Regions from separate parts of the Homo sapiens genome. Here regions 2 and 3 are each linked to region 1. The links come from fine-mapping of genetic effects on gene expression. A gene starts in region 1. Each other region holds a variant in brackets. All regions are shown on one strand. Distances are from middle to middle.

What was found.
Region 2: its variant is fine-mapped to the expression of EPB41L4A-AS1 in whole blood (TOPMed, PIP 0.94).
Region 3: its variant is fine-mapped to the expression of EPB41L4A-AS1 in tibial nerve (GTEx, PIP 0.98).

Annotation. Positions count from the first base shown.
Region 1 is chr5:112,156,439-112,164,449 of GRCh38, reverse strand. It overlaps EPB41L4A-AS1 (EPB41L4A antisense RNA 1), which reads right to left and starts at 3,924. Exons shown (of 3, transcript NR_015370.2): 1 at 3,155-3,924; 2 at 2,675-2,747; 3 at 1,949-2,299. It overlaps EPB41L4A (erythrocyte membrane protein band 4.1 like 4A), which reads left to right. Exons shown (of 23, transcript NM_022140.5): 23 at 1-1,831. SNORA13 (small nucleolar RNA, H/ACA box 13) reads right to left here and starts at 2,965; the gene lies at 2,833-2,965. RefSeq lists enhancers at 3,120-3,169, 3,280-3,329, 3,350-3,449, 3,225-3,957, 3,830-4,039 and 1 more.
Region 2 is chr5:112,201,144-112,209,154 of GRCh38, reverse strand. It overlaps EPB41L4A (erythrocyte membrane protein band 4.1 like 4A), which reads left to right. Exons shown (of 23, transcript NM_022140.5): 14 at 3,651-3,734; 15 at 4,667-4,780. LOC124901044 (a long non-coding RNA gene) reads right to left here. Exons shown (of 3, transcript XR_007058902.1): 3 at 7,612-7,783. Among named protein-coding and RNA genes, the nearest start is that of SNORA13, 44 kb to the right of the region's middle. The variant C/A (reference allele first, on the strand shown) is at 4,898.
Region 3 is chr5:112,210,927-112,218,937 of GRCh38, reverse strand. All of the region lies in intron 12 of EPB41L4A (erythrocyte membrane protein band 4.1 like 4A), which reads left to right. Among named protein-coding and RNA genes, the nearest start is that of SNORA13, 53 kb to the right of the region's middle. RefSeq lists an enhancer at 841-1,342. The variant C/T (reference allele first, on the strand shown) is at 3,447.

The DNA of each region.
Region 1 (8,011 bases):
ATTTCTATCTTGTGTCTGTGTCCACCACAACCAAGACCAGATGCATCTGATGAACATTCTGGAATTCTGAACTGCAGCTAGCCTGCTGTGCAATAGTACAAGTGGGAGGACGTCTTCCCAGGGCTGGGCTGGTTCTCAACTAGTGCCCAGATGCAAAAGGACTGAGGCATCACTTTCAGACTGCATATATTTTTATTCATATAAAGTTCTTTATAATACTTTATTTTGTGGTGTTAAGTTCCACCAGTTATTTACAAATGATGTAAAAAGCTTTAAGTGTTGTTAATTTCTAAAGTGTTCTTGCGTTTTCAGAAGTGTAAGTGGATCTCAGTTGATCTGTCACCCCAAACCTCAAATGATCCATCCACCCTGCTTGGCCATCTAATTCACCTGCTCTCCCCAGTGACTATTTTGTACCTTTCCTCTCCATAGATGACTTTGCAATCTACAGGGAAAATACTTATGCAGGACATCTTATATCTCCCCCTTACCACGTACAGTTCTCTCCACAGCTGCCAGCAGCCCTAACCTTTTTGTCTCTCCACCTGTGCTTTGGATGCTCTTCTCCCAGCCTTTTCAGGATCTTTGTCTGTCCTCCTATATTAATGTATTCAATTATTCTCTCAGCTAGATCCTTGCTACTTGGTTTTAAATTTAAGACTAAGATTAAACAAAACTATCTTTCACAACCACAAACCCCCTCCCGCCAAGCAACTAAGATTTTCCTCTCATTCTCAGCCAGTTTTCTTGCAAGCAGTATCTTTAGTCATTGCCCTCAATTCATCTAATCCCTATCTTAAGCTATCTCTAACATGGATCTTTCCCTCTACTCCACTAATATCAATCACTGTGTTACTTAATCCCAGGGAGAATTTTTAGGACATTCTTTTGCTTCTTTAATATAATCCTATTTTGCTCCTACCACTGACCATCCTTTCTGGCTTATCATGCTTTACCTTGCCATTAATTAGTGGAGTTTCTCAAACTTCAGACCCTAGGCCCTCTTCCTCTACCACCAGCAGATCTCATTTATACCCATGGCCTTAAGGTTTATTTCTGTAGTTTAGACTACTGAGTAATGTGCTACTGCAAAAAGACCATTTGGGTTTCTCAAAGGTAATTTAAAAATTCAGCTGTTTAAATGCTGCTCCCCAGCTGAATCTAGGGTCATTATGCTCATCAGTGTGCAAGCTGGACACCTAGCAGTTATGGACACCTCCACTATTACCACGTCTAGTTGGCTCTGTCATCCAACTATAAACGATCTTATTTCACTAATTTTACTAGTCCAAGCTGGTCTCTTGTCTAGACAACAATAAGCAACCTAGTTCAACTACCTTTTCTTGCAAATCTGATTTTCCACCATGGATTTATCTTGCTTTAATAAAGCCAGAGGGAGCCTGAAGTGGTCTGGCTTCTTTACCTACCTCTTCAGCCTCATTTTGTAACACTCTCACCTCCCATAATAGCCATCTTACAAGCCTCAGTAAGGACTCAGTTCTAAAACAGGGCACTGAAGAGGGAAAGCAGCCAAAACTGTCTCAAAAGTAAGTGGACTAACGGTATCTTTTTTCTAGCCCAAGCCTCTGTATATGTCATTCCCCCAGTTTTGCCTTGTGAAAAATATGACACATACCTTTAGTCTCAACTCTTTCTCAGGTTTCCCTAAGAAAATCCTATCACGGAACTCATCTCATAGTGAAGTTTTACATTTGTGATGACATTCCCTCCACTTATCTATGTTTCCAAAGGGAAGAACTGTGTTGTGCTCATCATCGTGTTCTCAGCTCCTAGTACAGTGCTTTCAATAAATTTTTTGAATACCTCTATACATTATTTGTCGTTTCCTGCAAAGCAAAGGCAGAAGATATGGCAACATTAAATGTACAATTTAGTTGGAGGAAAAATACGCATTGAGTGCAGTAAAGCACACCTGTCACTAGAAATCAGTCTAGTTCTAGCCACGATTTTTGAGTCACTGGAAGAAAGTACATTTCTCTTTGGGCCAAACACAAGCTATTTTAAGGCTATTAATTATGGTGACAGCAGTGAATACTGATCAAAAAAGAACCCCTCCTCCCTTATAACTTTTTAGAAATAGCTGTTTCTGGCAGTTAATCACTTAAAACACAAATGCCAAAGTGCATTAATATATTTATTCACATCCTCACTGTCTTAAATGTGTATTTACAGACTCCAGCAGGTAATTATGTCAGTACTCCTCAGACTCCCAGAAATTTCAAATGATCCAGGCAACTCTTGTGAAGATCAAATTTTCAAAATCCTCACCAAGGACATCCTAAGAGAAAAAATAAAGTACTCAATTCGACAGCAAATATTTTTGTATTACATTTTAATCAAGAACTTGGTAATATGCCTGCGATTTCACAAGCTTTTAAAAAACTCAATTACTACACATAAAAACAAATCTTAAAGAGATGCAGAATGCCAGTACTATGCGTATTTATTTCCCTGGGCTTCTCAGGAAGTATCAGCAAAACCTTCCCAAAAATAAGCTGTGGAGGCTATCCCATTTATTAACTCACCTTAATAGCTACAGACAGAGCAACACTACGAATGTACCACTGACATTAAAACTCACTAGAGAAGGAACCCCAATTTAAAAGGTGATAAAAATTCCCATTACAAAGTGCTTTAAGACATATCACCCTACCTTCAGGTCACCTTTATGCTCCCAGATGGTATTCAGCTAGCAGCAGTCTACACTTCAGGCATCCATCTTCCACCTGAACAAAAATTAGAACTGGCTAAGAGAAACCATACACTTAAGGCTAGCAGGGTCAAGATCACGCGTGGAAACGTAAAAGCAGCAACTGTTACTTATGCAGCTCCTACACCAAAGGTATCAAATTTAAGGGCAGGAAAAGGCTGCAAAGCGTTTAATTTACGCCTTTTTTGACACCACATTCACTAGTTTCCAAAGTGAATGGGCAACACAAAGGCTGACACTGCGTGAGGTAGGCTTTATGGCATAAGGTTGCTGACTGGCTGACAGTAATGCCGATTACAGCCTAAAAACGGACAATACATTTCAGAGAAATTTTCTCACGATTTAAAATCCGACTTAATAATGAAAAGTGAAATGCGATGCGTTTTAAATGGCGACTGGTCTTGCACGAACGTGAAAACTCACCTGTAGGGTAGGTGATCACTCCCGACGAGCACCGCACGTGGAAACAGCTGTAACCAGGCACGCTGCTTTTAAGTTATTTTATACGGGGGCAGGGCAAGCATAAAGTCAGTTATACGGTAAGGCCTTTTCACTGACGAAAATAAAACCAGGCTTATCTGGAGAACTCCCTGGCATAGTCGATGATGTAAACACAAATCGACGAAGCTCCCCGTTTCCAAACGTGGGAACGCAGGCCTGAGGCCAGGCCGCTGCCCTTGTTCACGGCCCCGGACACTTCGGACACAGGCCGCCGCAGTCGACTCACCAGACTCAGGGTGGCCGCGTTCCCCCGCCCGGCGCCCCTGCGTGAGAGACCACGCGGCCACAGCCAGGCGCCATCCCAGAGGACCCAGAGCAAAAACCACAGCAAGCTCGCACCAAAAGGAAGAAAGGACAGGCTTCCGTCCCACAATGCTTTTCTACAAGTGGAAGGACCCACTGTCCGAGAGCGCGAGGGGGGAGCGGGCTGTACCATCGGCCGCTGCGCTATGGCGAGACGCCGCCGTGTGGCCGGAGGGAGAAGTGCCAGTGAGGGACCGAGGGGCGTGTCACCAAAGGGAGGAGGAGCCTGGGTTCTCAGCCCGAGTCACCTCTGCGGATGTGTGGCCAGTTCTTTCCACAGAGGAGGTATCCAGACATCCCCCCACCCGACCAGGGTCAAGAGCATATGATCAGTGCTGGCAGCGGCAGGAGCCCAAAGGACTTTAGACCACGTATTTTGGGACCCGACAGAATTCATGAGTCCAGCTGAGGAAGAGTAGAGTCATTCATTCGAAAGATATTTAGTCAGCACTTACTATGCTCCAGGCCCTGGCCTGAGTGCCTGGGAATCAGGTGTGGGTGAGCCAGGCAAGGTTTCTGTGGTACATTCTGCTTGGGTGAGTAGGCCACTGACCAAGTGAGCCCGGATGCTGAAATTCTACAATGTAAGTGCCAGGAGGGCAGCAAAAGAGGGTCATGCCATAGGGTAGCGCTGTCCGATGGAAACAGTGTGAGCCATGAGTGTAATTTTAAATTTTCCAATTGCCACATAAAATGTGAAAAGAACGCCGGGCGCGGTGGCTCATGCCTGTAATCCCAGCACTTTGGCAGGCTGAGGCAGGTGATCACCTGAAGTCAGGAGTTCAAGACCAGCCTGGCCAACATGGCAAAACCCCGTCTCTACTAAAAATACAAAAATTACTTGGGCTTGGTGGCGGGCGTCTATAATCCCAGCTACTTGGGAGGCTGAGGCAGGAGAAATGGCTTGAACCCGGGCGGGGTGGGGGTGGAGGTTGCGGTGAGCCGAGATCATGCCACTTGACTCCAGCCTGGACAAAAGGGCGAAACTCCGTCTCAAAAAAAAAAAAAAAAAAGTAAAAAGAAACAGATCAAATTAATTTTAATAATAACCCAACATATTTTAAATATTTCAACAGGCAATCAATATGAGATTATTAATAAGATATTTCTTTTATATCTACTAAGTCATAAAAATCCGGTGTATATTTTATACTTCCAGCACATTTCCGTTCAGACTAGACACATTTCAAGTGTTCAGTAGCTCATGGGGCTAGGAATAGGAAGACTGGAAGTGAACTCCGAGCAGATGTGTGAAGGCGGTTATGCAAGATCTGGAGACAGCAGGCCTTGGCCAGTGTGGCTGGAGTCGAGTAAGGAGTGTAGAGTGACAAGATGCAGCTGGAGAGCCAGGCAGGAGCAAGGCACTTAGGGTCTTGTCACACAGGGCAAGGTGTTGGGATTTTATGCTGAAATCTTAGAGTTGATTAATTATCACCACAAAAATTAAGCAGAGTTTGTTAATTGGCTTTTTTCCTGATAACCATAACTCCTTGAAGGGACAGGACAAGTGGCAGCAAGACAAGTTGTATGATAACAACTAGGTCTCCATGTTTCTCTAAGTCCTAGCAGAGATTCATCCAGAGACCAGTTTTAGCACCTTTCGTTGTTTCTTTGAAGCCTACTTCTATAAAAGAAAGAAGGAAAGAGAAGAAAAGGAGCTTATCTCCGAACACATCAAGTTATATACATTAAATACAGCTTTTTGTATCTCAATCATACCTCAATAAAGTGGTTTAAAAAAAAAAGAAAATTCAGGCTCACAGCCCAGTGGTCATCACACAAGGACTAGCATGAATAATAACCAAATCAATCTGGAGAAAATGACTGTACAGAATTAGTAAATGTATAATTATTACAAGAAGGTAAGTAACTCCAGACTTCATTAGGAAGTCACTGTAACATCTGGGGCAAAAGGAAGTTTGCAGAAGGAAGGCAGTAACACGAAGATTGTCCTTTAAAGACAGCGAAAGGCACAGTGTGGGGATTATAACATGCCTTAGTCTTGCCTTCTTGCTAGGGAAAGTCAGTGACATGTTTTGGCTGTGTCCTCACCCAAATCTCATTTTGAATTGTAGTTCCCATACTCCCCAGGTGTTGTGGGAGGGAGCTGGTGGGAGGTAATTGAATCATAGGGTTGGTTACCTTCATGCTATTTTCGTGATGGTGAGTGAGTTCTCAGGAGATCTCACCAGATCTTTGCTTGGCACTTCACCTTCCTGCTGCCATGTGCAAAAGGATGTGTTTGCTTCCCCTTCCGCTATGATTGTAAGTTTCCTGAGGCCTCCCCAGCCATGCTAAACTGTAAGTTAATTAAACCTTTTTATTTTATAAATTATCCAGTCTCGGGTATGTCTTGATTGGCAGCAGCATGAGAATGGACTAATGCAGTGAGAGAGAGGAAATTTTCTTGGACTGGGGCAGCCAGCATATATAGGTTTAGTTTATATCTACCTCTGATATTTGTTCCCTTAGGTATGTGACCACCATTGTGAGCCTGAGTTTCCTCATTTAAAGGTAATAACTACACACATGTACTATATGGGTTAGTTTAAAGAATTATGAAAGGTTTGTGGAATCACGTAGCATTGTGTGTGGTACATAATGACATCTAATAAATGACTCAAATGAGCTAGACATTTCCTCTCTTTTACCCCTACCCCAAATATGGAACCTTCTTGTATTGAGTTCTTATGAAAGGGGGAAACATGCTGTTTTTCTTCTAATGGCTTTACATTATTGCTCCCACTTTCCTCTTTTCTCTTCTTCCCTTTGTATCTCTTCCCTAAACTTTCCAAAATTAGGCAGAGGAAGGCATTTGTTCCAATTACTGGATCAGTGTTAGGTTTTAGGAAATCAATTCAAAATCCTTCCTCTCCCCTGTCTGCTTCAGCCTCCTGAATCCTGGTACAGAAAACCCAATTACTAAGTACAGGTAAGCAGAAAGGACATGAGAAGAAGATAGTGGATATTTTCTACCTAGTCTCTGCTTCCTCCTTGCCTGCTGGGCTGAGGCACTGTGTAAGGATGTTCAAGCCACACAGTGGTAGTGCAAATGTGAAGCAACCTGGGTTTCCCTGTGTGGAAGGCAGAATAATAATCTCTCCCCAAAAGATATTCATGTCCTAATTCTCAGAACCTGTGAATATGGTGCATTACATAGCAGAAGGGGCTTTGCATATGTGATTAATATTAGGAACCTTGAGATAGGGGGATAAAAATGGAAGAAGGTAGCAGAAGAGTTAGAGATTTGGCAGAAGGGAAGGCAGGAGAAATAGACATGAGAGGGGCTCAACCCTCCATTGCTGGCTTTGAAGATGTAGGAAGGGGCCACAAGCCAAAGAATATGGGCAGCCTCTAGTACCTGGGAATAACCCTCAGCTGACAGCAAAGGAGCAGGGATTTCTGTCCTACAGAGCTGTGAGATAATGAATGTATGTTGTTTTAAGCCACTAAATTTGTGTTAATTTGTTATGGTAGCAAGAGAAACCTAATATAACCTATAAGGGGTAGAGAGTAAGTGAGCTTTATTTGTTACTCCACCATTTCTTGTCCCATCTCGATTTTCTCATTAGGAGTGGAAACGAGATTTTGCAGACAAACTTGTGCACATTTCATTTTAAAATAATTAATCCATATAAAGCTGACTTTTGCTTATAGTGAGTTCTAGGGATAACCAGTTGCTCTAAGGTGGTTTATCAATAGCCCATCCTTTCTACACAGATCTACCATGCCACCATCATCATAGATCAGGTTGTTTTTTTTTTTTCTTTTTGCATGGATGTACCTTTGCACTCTCTATTCTGTCCTACTGGTCTATTTGTCTCTCCTGTGTCAATATTACGCTGTCTCAATTACTATATTTTTTATAATGTCTTTATATTTTCGGGGCAAATACCCTGCCCTCCCACATCCATATCACCACGCAGACACCATGATCTTTTTCAGGGAAGTCTTGGCTATTACTGTCCCTTTTCTCTTGCACATAGTTTTTAGAATTAGATTGTAAAGTTCAATGAATTGAACTGGTTCACTTGGACTCCTTCTCCTTTTTGGTAGTCATTGTTTGATTACGCTTGTCTTCAGGATTGTACTGCTAAAGCCATATTTCATCATCTTTTCACTGAACTTCACAATCTAAAGATTGTTGGGATTTTTATTGGAATTGCATTGGATCTGTGATCAACTGAAGGAGAGTTGACATCTATATGAAAATGGTATGTGTGATAGTCGATTTTATGTATCAACTCTGGATCACAGGATCTTCAGCCATCTAGCTAAACATTATTTCTGGGTGTGTCTTTGAGGATGTTTCCAGAGGAGATTAGCATTTGAATCAATAAACTGAGTAAAGGAGATGTACTTCCTCAATGTGGGTGGCATCACTTAATCCTTTGAGGGCCTCAATAGAACAAAAAACGGGATAAAGAAAGGATTCGCTTGCTGTCTGCCTGACTCTATCAGCTGGAACGTTAATCT
Region 2 (8,011 bases), 45 kb before region 1:
AAAGACTTCTTAGATCATCTACTTGATATTTTTTTGGTAAATAATAGTGGCTTCATTCAGCTGTATTGTGGCTACTTTGAGGAGTATAGTTCATAATTTCTCAGCAAGATAACTTTAAGATCTGAAGATTCTCAGAGTTTTAATATTTTACGCAGGGATTTGCCTATGTTTTGTTTGGTTCTAAGACATTTACTGGTTCTCCTTTTAGGATGACAAGTTCTTTATCATTGCATAACTTTAGTTTACTGTATTTCCCTTAGTCACCCTCAAGCTGTGGATAGAGATTCAGCTTCATCTGTATGTACAGGGTATGCTTGTGGTATGTTCAGCATAAGAACAGGAATCTTCCATGAGATTCAGATCCCACGCTTTTTTAGAATGTGCAGAAGGAGTACAATCCTCCTTTTAAAAATTTATTTTTTCAACTTTTATTTTAGGTCCAGGGGTACGTGTGCCAGTAGGTTTGTCACATGGGTAAATTGTTTATCACTGAGGTTTGGTGTATGCATGATCCCATCACTCAGGTAGTGAGCACAGTACGTGATAGGTAGTTTTCAACCCTTGCCCCCTCTCCTCCTCTAGTGGTCCCCAGTGTCTATTGTTCCCATCTTTATGTCCATGTGTACTCAATGTTTAGTTCCCACTTATAAGTGAGAACATGCAGTATCTAGTTTTCTGTTTCTGTGTTAATTAACTTAGGATAATAGCCTCCAGTTGCGTCCGTGTTGCCGCAAAGGACATGGTTTCATTCTTTTTTATGGCTGTGTAGTATTCCATGGTGTATATGTTCCATATTTGCTTTATCCAGTCCACTGTTCATGGTCATCTAGGCTGATTCTATGTCCTTGCTATTGTGAATAGTGCTGCAATGAGCATGTAAGTGTATGTGTCTTTTTTTTTTTTTTTTTTTGAGATGGAGTCTCCCTCTGTTGCCAGGATGGAGTGGAGTGGCACCATCTTGACTCACTGCAACCTCCGCATCCTGGGTTCAAGCGATTCTCCTGCCTCAGCCTCCCAAGTAGCTGGGACTACAGGCGTGTGCCACCACTCCCAGCTAATTTTTGTAGGTTTGGTAGAGATGGGGTTTTACCAGGTTGGCCAGGATGGTCTGCATCTCTTGACCTCGGGATCCGCCTGCCTTGGCATCCCAAAGTGCTGGGATTACAGGTGTGAGCCATTGCGCCCAGCCATATGTCTTTTTTTGTAGAATGATTTGTTTCCCTTTGAGTATATATCCAGTAGTGGAATTGTTGGATCAAATGGTGGTTCTGTTTTAAGTTCTTTGAGAAATCTCCAAACTGCTTTCCACAATGGCTGAGCTAATTTATATTTCCCCCAACAGTGTAAAAGTGTTCCCTTTTTTCCACAATCTTGCCAACATCTTTATTTTTTGTCTTTTTAATAATAGGTATTCTGACTGGGGAGATGGTGTCTTATTGTGATTTTAATTTGCTTTTTTCGAATGATTAATGATGTTGAGCATTTTTTCATGTATTTGTTGGTTGCATGTATGTCTTCTTTGGAAAAGTGCCTGTTGATGTCCTTTGCCCATTTTTTAATGGCATTGTTTGTTTCATCTTGTTGAATTGTTGAAGTTCCTTATAGATTCTGGATATTAGACCTTTGTCAGATACATAGTTTGTGAATATTTTCTCCTTTTCTGTAGATTGTCTGTTTACTCTGTTGATAGTTTCTTTTGTTGTGCAGAAGCTCTTTAAAGTCTCACTTGTCAATTTTTGGTTTTGTTGCAATTGCTTTTGGGGACTTAGTTATAAATTCTTCACCAAGGCTGATGTCCAGAATGATATTTCCTAGGTTTTCTTCTAAGATGTATTTTCATAGTTTGAGGTCTTACATTTAAGTTCTTAATCTATCTTGAGTGGATTTTTGAATATAGTAAAAGGAAGAGGTCCAGTTTCACTCTTCTGCATATGACTGGCCATCCCAGCACCATTTAGGGAGTCCTTTCCCCATTGCTTGTTCTAGTTGCTTTTGTTGAAGATCAGATGGTTGTAGGTGTATGACTTTGTTTCTGGGTTCTCTATCCTATTGCATTGGTCTTTTTGTCAGTTTTTGTACCATACCATGCTGTTTTTGTTACTGTAGCCTTGTAGTACAGTTTGAAGTCAGGTAGTGTGATGCCTCCAGCTTTGTTCTTTCTGCTTAGAATTGCTTTGGCTGTTTGGGCTTTTTTGGAGGGAGGGTCCATTTTAGAATAGTTCTTTCCTGTGAAAAAATGATGTTGGTAGTTTGATAGGAATAGCATTGCATCTGTATATTGCTTTGGGCTGTATGGCCATTTTAACAATATTTTTCAATCCCCTTTGCAACCACATTCCTGTGATGATACTGGTACTTGAAGCACCACCAAAGTTTTCCTCTCAAGCTTCAGATGAGAAATACCTTAGGGTGTGAATGCAATTAACTTGTCACCCAGGATTTTATTATTCTTTAACTTTTGTATACTCTCTCAGTTCCTCTTTTATCTCCCTATTTCTTTTCCAGTCTCCCTTCTCCCTTCTCTTTGCTTTTTCTGATTTATTGATCCCATACACTTTCTACTATCGTATTAAATATCTGCCATATTTGTTAATTTTCATCATTTCAAAAGGTAAGCTTTTACTTTGGGAATTGAATCTGTAGAGGTTTTTAGCCTTTATAAAAATAATAAACTAAGCTGCCATCTACTAATACTATGGGTTATATGCCTCTGTCAGATACAAAATTTTATAGGCTTACTTTAATTCCATCATGGATAGTATACTAGGGTGCAAGTCTTTTTTTTTTTTTAATACCTCGTCATCTTTCCTCTCTCCTCTTTGTTGGCTGTTACAAAGTACTCCTCTATGACCCTATCCTAGGACAGTTATACAGAGGATTCCTCAAAAAGCCAGGGTTAAAAGTGGATTTGGAGTTAAATAGCTCTATCTTTATCTTAAGCTAAGACTCCTGAGGATGTGAGAGGTGACACACCCCTCCCCACTGGTGCCTGGAGGCTTCTGATTAGTCCCTTCCTCCATGTCTCCCCAGGGGTTTCTAAAACAATTTGTTGAGGGTAGAACAACTCAGTTACATTTACATTCTTAGGACTGAAAGATGATACTAGGTCAGGAAATAGCATTTGAAAGTCATTCTCATCTGGAGGGATGAAGCCAAGATAAGGCGGAAGCCAGGAAAAGGTCAGTTTGAATAGCCTGAACCTGCCCGGGGCTGACCGACCTGTGTGGATTCAGACCCGTGCCTGGAGTAAGGGCTTCTCTGATCACTGTTGTAAAAAGGGAGCCAGGCTGAAGATCCTGGGTAGCCCAGGTCCTTCCTCCTTGGCTTTCTTATTTTCTTGGCTCTGTGGTTCCCCTTGCTGCCTCTCCTGCAGGTGGACTCTAGAGTTTCTTAACAATTGATGGACCTGGCATCTGTTGACTAAAGCAGTAAAACTAGAAAGAAAGAGGGGGGAAAGACCCAAAGGTACTTGCTGGAGACAGATTTTATGGGCAGCGACTTCATGTTCTTTTTAGAGTCACAGGTATAAACAAGCAAATAAGTGTGCACATCTTAACATTTGTTAAAAAGTTTTACTTAACAAATAAGTATGTGAGTTTACTTTTATTTTCTACTTAATTTATTTCTCATACTTTTTTTTAAAATTAAAGCTTTAAGAAAGCAAAGAATGAAAATAGCCCTGATACCCAAAGAAGCAAATCTCATGCACCGTGGGAAGAAAATGGCCCCCAGAGGTAAAGGGAATCATTGTTTTTATAAAGGAGACAGTAGAAAAGGGGTTAGTACATGCAGCTCATTGAATAAAGGAATCCAGCTGCTGGGTGGCTGATCACAGCTAGCTGTGGATAAAGTGGGCAGACTCTAAATCAATGTGACCCAGGGGAGAGGGGCTGGGATTTCTGAAGTGGAAATCAACAGTATGTTTTATAACATGAAACTTTTTCCTGGAAAGGCAAAAGGGAAACCTAGGAAATATTATGAAATTGCCTGTAAGGTAATATATTTCTGAAAACTCTAAATGGCATATTAATAATTTTCCCCATTTCATAGTTTTGGTTAAAAACTTAAGTCAAAAACTATAGCTGATGAATAGTTATGCTGGAAGACCTTTATTCCTAAAAATATGGATATGTCTAGTGTATCTCTGGTCACAACTACCAAACCAGTGACAGACCTGTGTTGTAACTTATAGTTCAAATTCTAGCCCTGCCACTTCCTAGCTACTTTATTTGGGCCACTTAATTAAGTAGTCTATATTTCAATTTTTTTTCTGTTTAATAGGTTTAATAGTTGTATCTCAGTGCTGAAGGCTGATATGAAGATTAGCTGAGATAATGAATGTAAAGTCTTTAGCTGAGTCAGTGTTTAGAAAGGGCTAAATTCATCATATGTATGAATTGTTATTGTTATTTGTGTGTGTTCATTTTTTACTACTGAAGGCTAGTGAGACAAATGGCATTCCTGCAAAATAATGACCTTTATGATTTGATTTGCCAGATCTTACCTCTTTTCTTTTAATAAATCTTGTCAGCAAAGAGAACCACGTGCCCCTGGTGCATGTGCCTCTGGAAGTACCAGCTGTGCAGTTATGAATAGGTCTGGGCTGCGGTGTGTTTTCCCCCAGGAACTCTCTGGGCTCTTTTTGACCATTTTTCTTTCTCTCCAGTGGACTCTACAATTCTCCCAGTGATCGCACTAAGTCGCCAAAGTTCCCTTACACGCGTCGCCGAAACCCCTCCTGTGGAAGTGACAATGATTCTGTACAGCCTGTGAGGAGGAGGTAAGCGGAACACAATCTCTCTGTTAGCAGCTTTCAACAGAAGCATTTTGTCCCAGGCCTGACTTTATAATAGGTGATTCTTATACCGACATTACTGTTTCTCTCCAAGATAACAAG[C/A]AGCTTACTCTTTTTGACATAAAATAAGTTAGGAATCCTGAAGTATTTATCGTAAACAGCCAGAGTTTTAGAGAATAATTTCATAAAATATTGGCAGGAACTTGCTTTCTGTATTCTATTTATGAATAATGTGTCTAAAAATAGTATATAATATATAATAAAAATATGTATTATATATAGTATATTACAAAGTAGAGACAGTATATCTTTTTTTTTTTGAGACGGAGTTTCACTCTTGTTGCCTAGGCTGGAGTGCAGTGGCACGATCTCAGCTCACTGCAACCTCCGCCTCCTGGGTTCAGGCGATTCTCCTGCCTCAGCCTCCCCAGTAGCTGAGATTACAGGCATGTGCTGCCACGCCCGGCTGATTTTTTTGTATTTTTAGTAGGGGTTTTTCCATGTTGGTCAGGCTGGTCTCGAACTCCCAACCTCAGGTGATCCACCCGCCTCGGCCTCCCAAAGTGCTGGGATTACAGGTGTAAGCCACTGCGCCCAGACGAGATAGTATATGTTAATATATAAAACATATTAAGTGTTTCTACCTGAGAAGACAAAACTACACTTAAAGATAAGCCTTTTTAGCTGAAAAACGCCTTTTAAAGCACAGAAAAAAATGAATCCTGTTACATTTTACCTATACGGGTAGAGTGTTTGAAGGGATAATATTTGTGTGTGTATGCTTAATTTAAAAAGTTCTTAGCTGGAAGTTTTGGACCTCTCTGCAAAGCAGGCTGGGCAGTGTGACAGGTACAAGAGAGGAAGATGTAGAAATGACTCATCAGTGAAATTCTTTTCACTCCTACATGGCAGGGACTGTGTTTTATTTTGAGTACCTACATAATTGGCATTGTATAAATGACTTTTTCCTTTTTTTGGTTTTTGTGGTTTTTGTTTTTGTTTTTGAGATGGAGTCTCGCTCTGATGCCCAGGCTGGAGTGTAGTGGCATGATCTTGGCTCACTGCAAACTCTGCCCCCTGGGTTCGAGCGATTCTCCTGCCTCAGCCCCCTGAGTAGCTGGGATTACAGGCATGCGCCATCAGGCCCGGCTAATTTTTTTATTTTTAGTAGGGATAGGGTTTCTCCACGTTGGTCTCGAACTCCTGACCTCGTGATCCCTCTGCCTCAGCCTCCCAAAATGCTGGGATTACAGGCATGAGTCACCGCGCCCGGCCTCTTTTTCCTTTTTTAAAAAAATAAAAATGTATAAATTAAAGTAGAGATGGGGTCTCACTTGTTATGTTGCCCAGGCTGGTCTTGAATTCCTAGCCTCAAGCAGTCCTCCCACCTCAGTCTCCCAAATTGCTGGGATTACAGGCATGAGTCACTGCACCCAGCCTAAATGACTTTTATACTTACAAGAAGTTTCAGTTCATGATGTCAGGTAACCATCAAGACTCTTTTTGTGCACACTGCAGGTTTGGAAGCCAAGCCCTTCTTTCACCTATGCCCTAGTTAATACACACTTGCTGGCCTTTTCCTGCTTGATCCCTTTTGCTTCTGCTAGTTTCCCAGAGCTTTGCCCCCAGCTTTCTGAAACCAAGTTCAACTTCACTGAAATCCTTTGATGGTTAAGAAGAGAAGGGTCTATATTACCTTCATGTAGTAGGACTGACATGAGGGTGCTAGATCAGGTCCAACAATGATTAGACAGAATAATAGGGTAATAGTAGGCATTTGTTTGGTATTGCCATATTCCAAGTACTGAGCAAAGTGCTTGCTCTATATTATCTCATGTAATCCCAATAATAACCCTTTGGGAAATGGCATTTGTATTCAGGCATGATGTGATTCTAGCAGAGGGGGATTAAGTAGGGAATTGGTGCAAAGGTATAAGTAGGATTGAAGGTGCAAAAAGCAGAGAGTGGTGTAACTCAAGAGATCTAGCTGCTTTTACTGCCTCTGGACTGAAGGAATGCAAAGAGAGAAGTGGGTGTTACCTGGAGACCAGAAGCCGCTTCCACCTTTGAGCAGGCAATCCTGAGCCTGTGCTTGCTGCTGACAATGCTGCAGGCACCGTGATGGATGCTAGACAGGGACCACTCTTGCTGACACTGCTGGAGATACCACCACTGTAGCCGAACAAAGAACCCCCACTTCTCAGGAGTGCAAGAGTTGATGCCACAGGTACAACTAGAAGGAAAATAACTTTTCCTGTTCTCTGCCTTCAGATCTAACTGGAGTCTCTCTTAACTAGAACCCAGCTGGCAAAGTGTCCAGGAATATAAAATTTCCAGGCTTTCTATCTCTGCAGTAGAGAGTAGATTATAGATGAGTCAGTAGAGGCTGAGTACCAATGAAAAATATTCAGCCCACCATCACCATCTCAGTTTTACAGATGAGAAAACTGAGGCTCAGGGAGATGATGGTAGCTTGTCCTCTGTGGCACACATGGGATTGGAATCCCAGCCTGTACATCTGAAAAAGGTGGAGATAGTGATAGCCCTCATTTAAATAAACTGTACTTCAGCCCTTACTCAGCATTCTCCTTGGGAACACCAAGAGTTGGTTCAATTTGGACAATACTTAAAACCAAAGCAACACCACTGGGAAATACTTTAAAGTGCATTTGTGTGTATTGTGTGTTGAGGCGACATAGGTGGCAGGGATGATTAGAATTTAGCATATATTATTCGTAGATAGAGTTTTATAGTTTTCTACCCTTAATTAATTAGTGCAATTTGTCAGCACTCCCTATATAAAATAATTACACATGTTGAGCAGATAGTCATTTTAATACATTTGAAAATGAGCTTAATTACATTTTGCTAAAATATGGCTAAATTTGCATATTTTCATACAAAATAATTGCTTGAAATAGTTTGCAGCATATACACTCCCAAATCCAGACTTGACTTCTACACTGAGGTTCATTTTCCGCTGGCTTCCTGTGAAACACAGAGAAGTAATTGTGGAGAGTGGATACAGGATCCTTTCATTGGCGTATTCCAGGGGAAGGCTATTTAAATTTGCTGGGAAGAGGATCTTTTTGCCTGAGCATCCATAGAGCCTTTTGCCTGATGCACTTACAGGTCTCTTTTGGGGACGTGTGTTTTGAGGCAATGAGCCATTGCTGCATGTTGACATAAAAAGGACTAAAGCACATTCTTCTCTGT
Region 3 (8,011 bases), 54 kb before region 1:
GTTTTTAATGTCATATTTATACTTCAAATTATATCCTTTGGTACTATTTAAACTTTTCATGAAAAATTTTAGGTATCATTTTGAAACAAGCACAAGGTACATTGTTTTTCAAAATTCTTTTAGTGAGTGCTTGCGTAAAATAAAACACTACAGAGTCCTTGAGATGAGCTCAAACGTGGAAGCAGACAAAAAACTTCCCAATTTTGCCTTAGCTAAATAAGCATTTTAAAAACAATCTTGATATACAGGTATGCTTAGTTTATATTTGCATTTACTTTATTTACTATTAAAATTGCATCAAATAAAAACCTCAAAAGTAGTGTTCTAGCACTCTCCTCTGAGACAGAACCAGCTTTAGGTTAGGTATGGAACTATCCACCTGCCCTAGACCAAGCAAGCATAAATTGTGGGGCTTGAGAGATGGCTGGAGAATGTTTGGTGTGTGTCAGTCGGCTGTGTAGCCCTGATAGAGGATTGGAGGAGAGGGCACCAGGAGTACCACTGGGAAGGATGTGAGTGATCACTCAACTCTCTTCCCTCAAACTCGTATCACAGGAAGAAAAACTTGATATCCAAGTGACTCGTGACACCTCTTGATTCCAGCTGACCATTCATAGATAGGTGTTATCTTTGGGTCCAAGAGGGCTTGAAGGAACAATGTGCACCCTCTCCTGTTACCACATCTGGCAGTCTTTCCACGCTGGTGTAGATTACAAATCTTCAGATAGAAGTCTCTCATCCTACTCCTTTGAAGTTCTAAGGGAATGAGCAGATGCCTTCCTAGCCTCACAAATCCCTTTCTTGTTTTTGAACCTGGCATTCTGACCCACAAGGAGGACTGTCTGTGAGTACCTCCACACCCTGTAGCTCCTCCACACACTCTGTAGCACTGGGGGAAGGGCAGAGGAGGAAGTGCCTTTATGTGCACTCACAGTCCCAAATTATCATTTTGGTAATGACGAAAGCAGAGGGATCCAGGAGAGTACTGGGTCTGGGAAGAGGAAATTGGAAGCAGAACAACTCAGGAGGGGGCCTTTCATGCATAGACATGTTTTCCTAGCATCTTTCTCCTCCACACCCATTCCTTATAATCTACCCTCCAGCTTTTCAGTAGAATGCCTTCTTTGATCTTGCAGTAGCAAAATTGGTGTCTAAAAAGTCTATGTATATCTAGTAAAAAGGCAACTGCTTAAATATCACTCTTGGAACTTTAGAAGGCAGAAACATTTTTTGTGTTTTAAGAAATGGAGTCTCACTCTGTCACCAGGCTGGAGTGCAGTGGTGTGATCATGGCTTATTGTAACCTCAAACTCTCAAGTTCAAACAATCCTCCTGCCTCAGTCTCAATAACTGGGATGACAAGCATGGGCCACCATGCCTGGCTAATTAAAAAAACTTTTTTTGTAGAGATAGGTCTCACTATGTTGCCCAGGCTGATCTCAAACTCCTAGCCTCAAGCGACCCTCCTGCATTGTCTTCCCAAAGTGCTGGGATTACAGGAGTGAGCTACTGTATTCAGCCCAGGAATTCTTAAGCAGGAATCTGGCTGCCTTTTGGGGATGAGCCAGGTGTTTGAACTTAAACAATTAGCCATTGGATGCAGAAACATCTTTATTTTCCAAATTATGTTTTAATATTTATTTTTGCTTTATAGAATTTAATGAGCATCTGTTTTGCCAAATATAAAATTTTCCAGCTGGATGCGGTGGCTCACGCCTGTAATTCTAGCATTTTGGGAGGCTGAGGCAGGTGGATCACCTGAGGTCAGGAGTTCAAGACCAGCCTGGGCAACATGGTGAAACCCCATCTCTACTAAAATACAAAAATTAGCTGGGCATGATGGTGGGTGCCTGTAATCCCAGCTACTCGGGAGGCTGAGATGGTAGAATCGCTTGAACCTGGGAGACTGTGGTTGCAGTGAGTGGGTGGCTGAGCGAGACTCTGTCTCAAAAAAAAAAAAATTCCATGATGATAGGAAAATTATATAAGGTTTTCTTGAATATTTAGCTATTTGGCCGTAATTTGTGGTATAGAAAAAGAATGTTTTATTTTGCTAATTTGCTATACTGCCATTTTTTCCATAGTACCTAGTCTAAAGTTGGTGAAATTAAGGCAAAGTCACTTTGAGCTGTCAATGTGAGAAATAGAGCTAAAATATATTTTCAATTATTGGTCAGTTCTTAATTCACAAATATCATGTCTTTTGATAAGTTGAACTGGGTTAGGTCATGCAAATCAGATTGTGTTAACTGAAACCTAATAACTTACTGTGTTGAGAATAGCTATAATCTTATTATTTGTCTTAAGCATTTTATACAGTTTTTTTTTATGTTAAGGGAAGAAAATGTGATTGTTAAGTAGGACAAGATTTAACCTGAAGGTTTATAAATTTATATTTGAGAATTTTTAAAAGAAAGTGTATGTCACAACCTTGTTTTACTTGTTTAGCTGTATGTTATTTTCCCCACATATCAGAATAAGGTATTCTCGCTTTCCAAATACATTTTTTTCATTTTAATTTCACACATTCAGCCTTCACCCTCACTCTAAAAATTAAAAGGAATGGCAACATTTAAGTAACATCAAAGATTTGATTTATGTTGACAGGTGTCAAATTGACTTATGAATTTTGTGAGACTCGTAATCCTATTTAATTGCAAAGTATTTTTGTAATTGAAAATACGTGTATATTCATCACCAAATCTTGACATCACAGGGATGACTTTTAAGAATTGCCCCCAGATAAAGTAGCTAAATAGATCCTGGGAAAGTTCATTCTGTTTCTGACAGTCACACTTCCTGAACTGAAGGCAAGGATCACTTAAGATGGAGGTACTCAAATGTGAACAGAATCTAACCACTCAAAGGACTGGTAGTGGTCTGATGCACCAGGATGGAAGTATTTGGATATAGTGTATTAAAAACGAACAAATGAAACCCTGGAGCTTTGCACACTGGCATTTCAGTACTGTATAAACCACAGGGAATTGTGTGTGCACATATTAAGCTGTGGTGTCTAACAGCCCAGAAACAAATATCACAGGCCATGAGCTAGATTTGGCTCATTAATAAATGATAGCACTCCCCGACTGACATACTCTTCAAAATACGAGCAGCCTTTTGGAATTAAGCTTTGTCTGTTTTTTTTTTGTTTTTTTTGTTTTTTTTTTTTTTTGAGATGGAGTCTCACTCTGTCGCCCAGGCTGGAATGCAGTGGCGCGATCTCTGCTCACTGCAAGCTCCACCTTCCGGGATCACGCCATTCTCCTGCCTCACCCTCCCGAGTAGCTGGGACCACAGGCACCTGCCAGCACGCCTGGCTAATTTTTTGTATTTTTAGTAGAGACGGGGTTTCACCATTGTTAACCAGAATGGTCTCGATCTCCTGACCTCATGATCCGCCCGCCTTGGCCTCCCAAAGTGCTGGGATTACAGGCGTGAGCCAC[C/T]GCGCCCGAGCAAGCTTTGTCTTTTTAATGTGAACAATATGTAAAATGAATTGGACACTCTTGATTAATTCTAAGTGGCCTCACTAGAGTTATTATTATTTTTACTTGAAGTAAAATACAGATTTACTTCAAAGCCTTAATAGCCATATGTCAATAACTGATCTTGATTGCAGATCACCTGTGGCTGTGAATTGAAACAGCAGTGTGCTACTGCAGAAGACTGCCTTTTAAAATTCTAAGAAGCAGCCCAGTCCTGCAAGGTATATTGCCGCATGTCCTTTTGACATGCGTCTCAGGTACCACCACATCTATTAATAGTTTTTGTTTTACTTTTGACACTTATTAAATAAAGATCATTATCCTGAATTTTCCTCTCTAGTGGCAAAAATGGTAGAAACAGAAATACATCCTTTCTAATAATAGACATTCATTGAGTACCTACCATGGGTGGTGCACTGTTCTGGCAGCCATGTGGGTGCACAATGATGTGTCCTTCATTTTATTAAGATTTTGAGGCCTTATGAAGTTTTTAATTTAAAAATAATTTTGTTTTATATGTCAAATATTTTATGAAATGAAACACAGAATAATCTGTGTTTCCAGATATTTTAGGCAGAAAGCAACTGTTTAACTTTATCTAGAAAGTAAAGAATTGCCCCAAATGAGATGATTGTGAAGTGCAGGAAAATTGCCCTCTGTGTTTTTTTTCTTTTGTTTTTGCCTTTTGAGATGGAGTCTTGCTCTGTCGCCTGGGCTGGAGTGCAGTGGCGCGATCTCCACTCACTGCAAGCTCCGCCTCCTGAGTTCACGTCATTCTTCTGCCTCAGCCTCCCGAGTAGCTGGGACTACAGGTGCCCACCACCACACCTGGCTAAATTTTTTTTGTATTTTTAGTAGAGATGGGGTTTCACTGCTTTAGCCAGGATGGTCTCGATCTCCTGACCTCATGATCCGCCCGCCTCGGCCTCCCAAAGTGCTGGGATTACAGGCGTGAGCCGCCGCGCCCGGCTGCCCTCTGTGTTTTAATTCTTGAAGTGGGTGGTGGTTTACTGTATGATTATTTGTTAAGCTGTTTATATATGTATGTTATACCCTTTTCTTATGTCTGATATTTAAATGAAAAAGCAGTGGTGGTGGGGAAAGATTTATCTAACCTCCAAATATTTTCTGGAACAGTGCCTGAAATTCCCTTGTTATTGGTTAATTATTTTAGTTAATATTTGGTCTTTCCTTTTACTCATCTTCAAAATGGAACTGTTCTGTGGTACATAATACATGAAGACATAAGCCCATTAGTGGGATGGATTTGTCAGGTCACTTTTCTCTGTAGCCCGAGTCTGAGCTGATGTAGGAGGGATTCTGGAAGGTGGTATGATGAGGGGAGGAAAAGGAAAATTTAGTGGTCCATGTTAACAAAATGGAAAGTCAGTAAACCTAAATAATGCATAACCTAAATTTCTCACCTCTGCAGATTTCAATCACCAACATATAACCTAGCTTTACTGAATTGATTAGCTATCTCAAATGGTGGTATGGTAAAATCTTACTAATTTGGACAGTGGTTAAAATATATTATTCTGAAAGTATATTTACTGCTTTTAGATTACATATTTAGTGACATAAAACTAAAACATATTGCCTAATGAAGGCATGTGACTATTATATGAATGGATACTTCAGAAGTGCTCCCAGTAAGTTAATGCTTCTAAGTGGTTTTTCCCCATGTAGTCTTCCTAATAAGGCTTTTAAAACCCAGGCTTGTCTAGTTCACATTTGTTATAGAGTAGGGGAGTACAGATGAAGAGATATTTAGTTCATATAAAAAGACTGTACATGTTGGCTGGGTTTGGTGGCTCATGCCTGTTATCCCAGCACCTTGGGAGGCTGAGGTGATGCGGGCAGATAACCTGAGGCCAGGAGTTTGAGACCAGCCTGTCCAACATGGTGAAACCCCATCTCTACTAAAAATACAAAAATTAGCCGGGCGTGGTGGTGCATGCCTGTAATCCCAGCTACTCATGAGGCTGAGGTAAGGGAATCACTTGAACCCAGGAGGCAGAGGTTGCAGTGAGCTGAGATCGTGCCACTGCACTCCAGCCTGGGTGACAGAGCAAGAGTCTATCTTAAAAAAAAAAAAACAAAAAAAAAAACTGTACATGTTAACAGTGAACAGTAGATTACCATTTTGAATATAAAGGAACCATGAATTAAGTCATATTACTGATTATACCTTATCTCGTCTACAGTGGGTATATGAGAGTTATAGCACTGTCACATTAGTAAATTAGTCCTGACAGTAGAACAATTTATTTTGAAAAAGTTTGGCTATGCTGGTTGTGAGTGTTTGTGACAAAGAGCACTCACATGATTTTTTTTTCCTGAAATTCTTTTGGAAAACCATCCAAATAATGCTTCATCTTAAAAATTATGATTCAGACATTGTGAAAAACCAAATATTGCTTTCTTTAAGCAAATATATAAACATAGTTTGCAATTTTTCTTTTTAAAAATATTCTGTTTTTCTCTGTTAATTTTTGGATGGAAGGGAAACAGGTGAAGGTGATTAGGCACTTTTCCTAAAGTAATTGATTGTTAGACTAAGAAAAAAGTAGTCAGTCTAAAGAGAATGAGGGTGGGAGCAAACCTAGGTCTTTTCTTAAGCTAGTTACTCAGGGCCTTGGTTAACAGGATGTTCACCTTTACTCAGCTTTTTTCAGTTGGTGTTATTGACACTGGGTATTGGTCTCTCTGCTGTGGCCCCCTCTCCCAGCCTAGGAAAACAGCCCTAGGACATGAAGCTCCTTTTCATTTATATTAAATATTAGTAATATCTGCTAAGAATACCACCACATTTAAATAAAGGTTATTAAGAACAATTAAAAATACTAATGTTAGGGGGCTGGGCACAGTGGCTCACACCTGTAATCCCAGCACTTTGGGAGGCCAAGGTGGGTGGATCACTTGAGGTCAGGAGTTCCAGACCAGCCTGGCCAAGATGGTGAAACCCTGTCTCTACTAAAATTATAAAAAAATTAGCTGGACTCAGTGTCATGCGCCTGTAATCCCAGCTACTTGGGAGTCTGAGGCAGGAGAATTGCTTGAACCGAGGAGGCAGAGGTTGCAGTGAGCTGAGATCATGTCACTGCACTCCAGCATGGGCGACAAAGCAAGACTCTGTCTCAGGAGAAAAAAAAAAACAAAAACAACTAATGGTAGGGCACACCTACTGTCTAGGACCTAAATGAATTAGTCCCTTCTGCCACTGCCCCAGACGTGTACCACATGGAGTTCTACCTGTGAGAAGCAGCTTCATCCCAAATCTTTGCCTGCAATTTTGAGAATCTGCCCTTGTGATTTTGTTAATGGTCACATGGTTATGGCAAAATTGACTAAGATGGTGACTGGCCACTGCTGACGTTTGATGGCACGTGGAGTAGTTCCAGGGAATTAATTGGTTGTGTTCCATTTATCACACCAGGCAGAATTTACCCTAACATTAGTCTTTTCTTATTCCTGGCTTCTGGATGTTGCTCAGTTATTGGTAGTGGCTCCAGCATGAGCTTACCTTTTGTGCCACAGGTGTCTTCAGGCTCACCTTTTCATTTCAAGATTCCAAAATAGGAACACAATTCAGATATGGAATCCCATGTCAAATGCCTTAGAGTAACAGTTTTTGGAACTCTTATCTGAAACCACCCTTTGTTTTCTCTGTCTAAAGTGTATTTATTAATGTTTATCTTTCCTGATGGGTAAGCCAGACATACTTCCCAACTGCTCTGGAGGAAACTTGCCAACTTTGAGGGTGCTCAGGTGTTTCTCTTGTCTTGTCCTCTTGCCTTGCTCTGAAGTGTTCTTCTCATTGAACATCACTTTCACTTGCTGTGTGGGTTTTTTTTTTTTTTTTGAGACGGAGTCTCGCTCTGTAGCCAGGGCTGGAGTGTAGTGGCGCAATCTCAGCTCACTACAACCTCCACCTCCCGGGTCCCAGTTCAAGCAATTCTCCTGCCTCAGCCTCCTGAGTATCTGGGATTACAGGCATGCGCCACCATGCCCAGCTAATTTTTATATTTTTAGTAGAGATGGGGTTTTGCCTTGTTGGCCAGAGTGGTCTTGAACTCCTGACCTCGTGATCCGCCCGCCTCGGCTTCCCAAAGTGCTGGGATGACAGGCGTGAGCCACTGCGCCTGGCCCACTTGCCCTTTTAAGAGTCTGTCTCTCCCAGTTGACTCCTAATCTAGACTGACTCTTGAGCTGCTTGTGGGGCCACAGGTGGAAGTAGTGTGTGGTTCAGAGCTAAGTCTGTGGAGCCAGACTGCCCATCTTCAAAGCTTGCCCCACCACTCAGGAGCTGTGGGACCTTGAGAAAGGCCCATTTTTTTTAAATCTTTTAAAATGAGATAACATTGATATCTACTTCATAGGATTATTTTGAGGATACATGAGTAAATAGATGTGAAGCGCTTGTAATAGTACCTGACACATAGTAAGTACTCAATAAATATTAGTGCTTATTAATGTTACAAACTCATCTTCATGACATTCTCGGTGGTTAGTGACCGTTATGC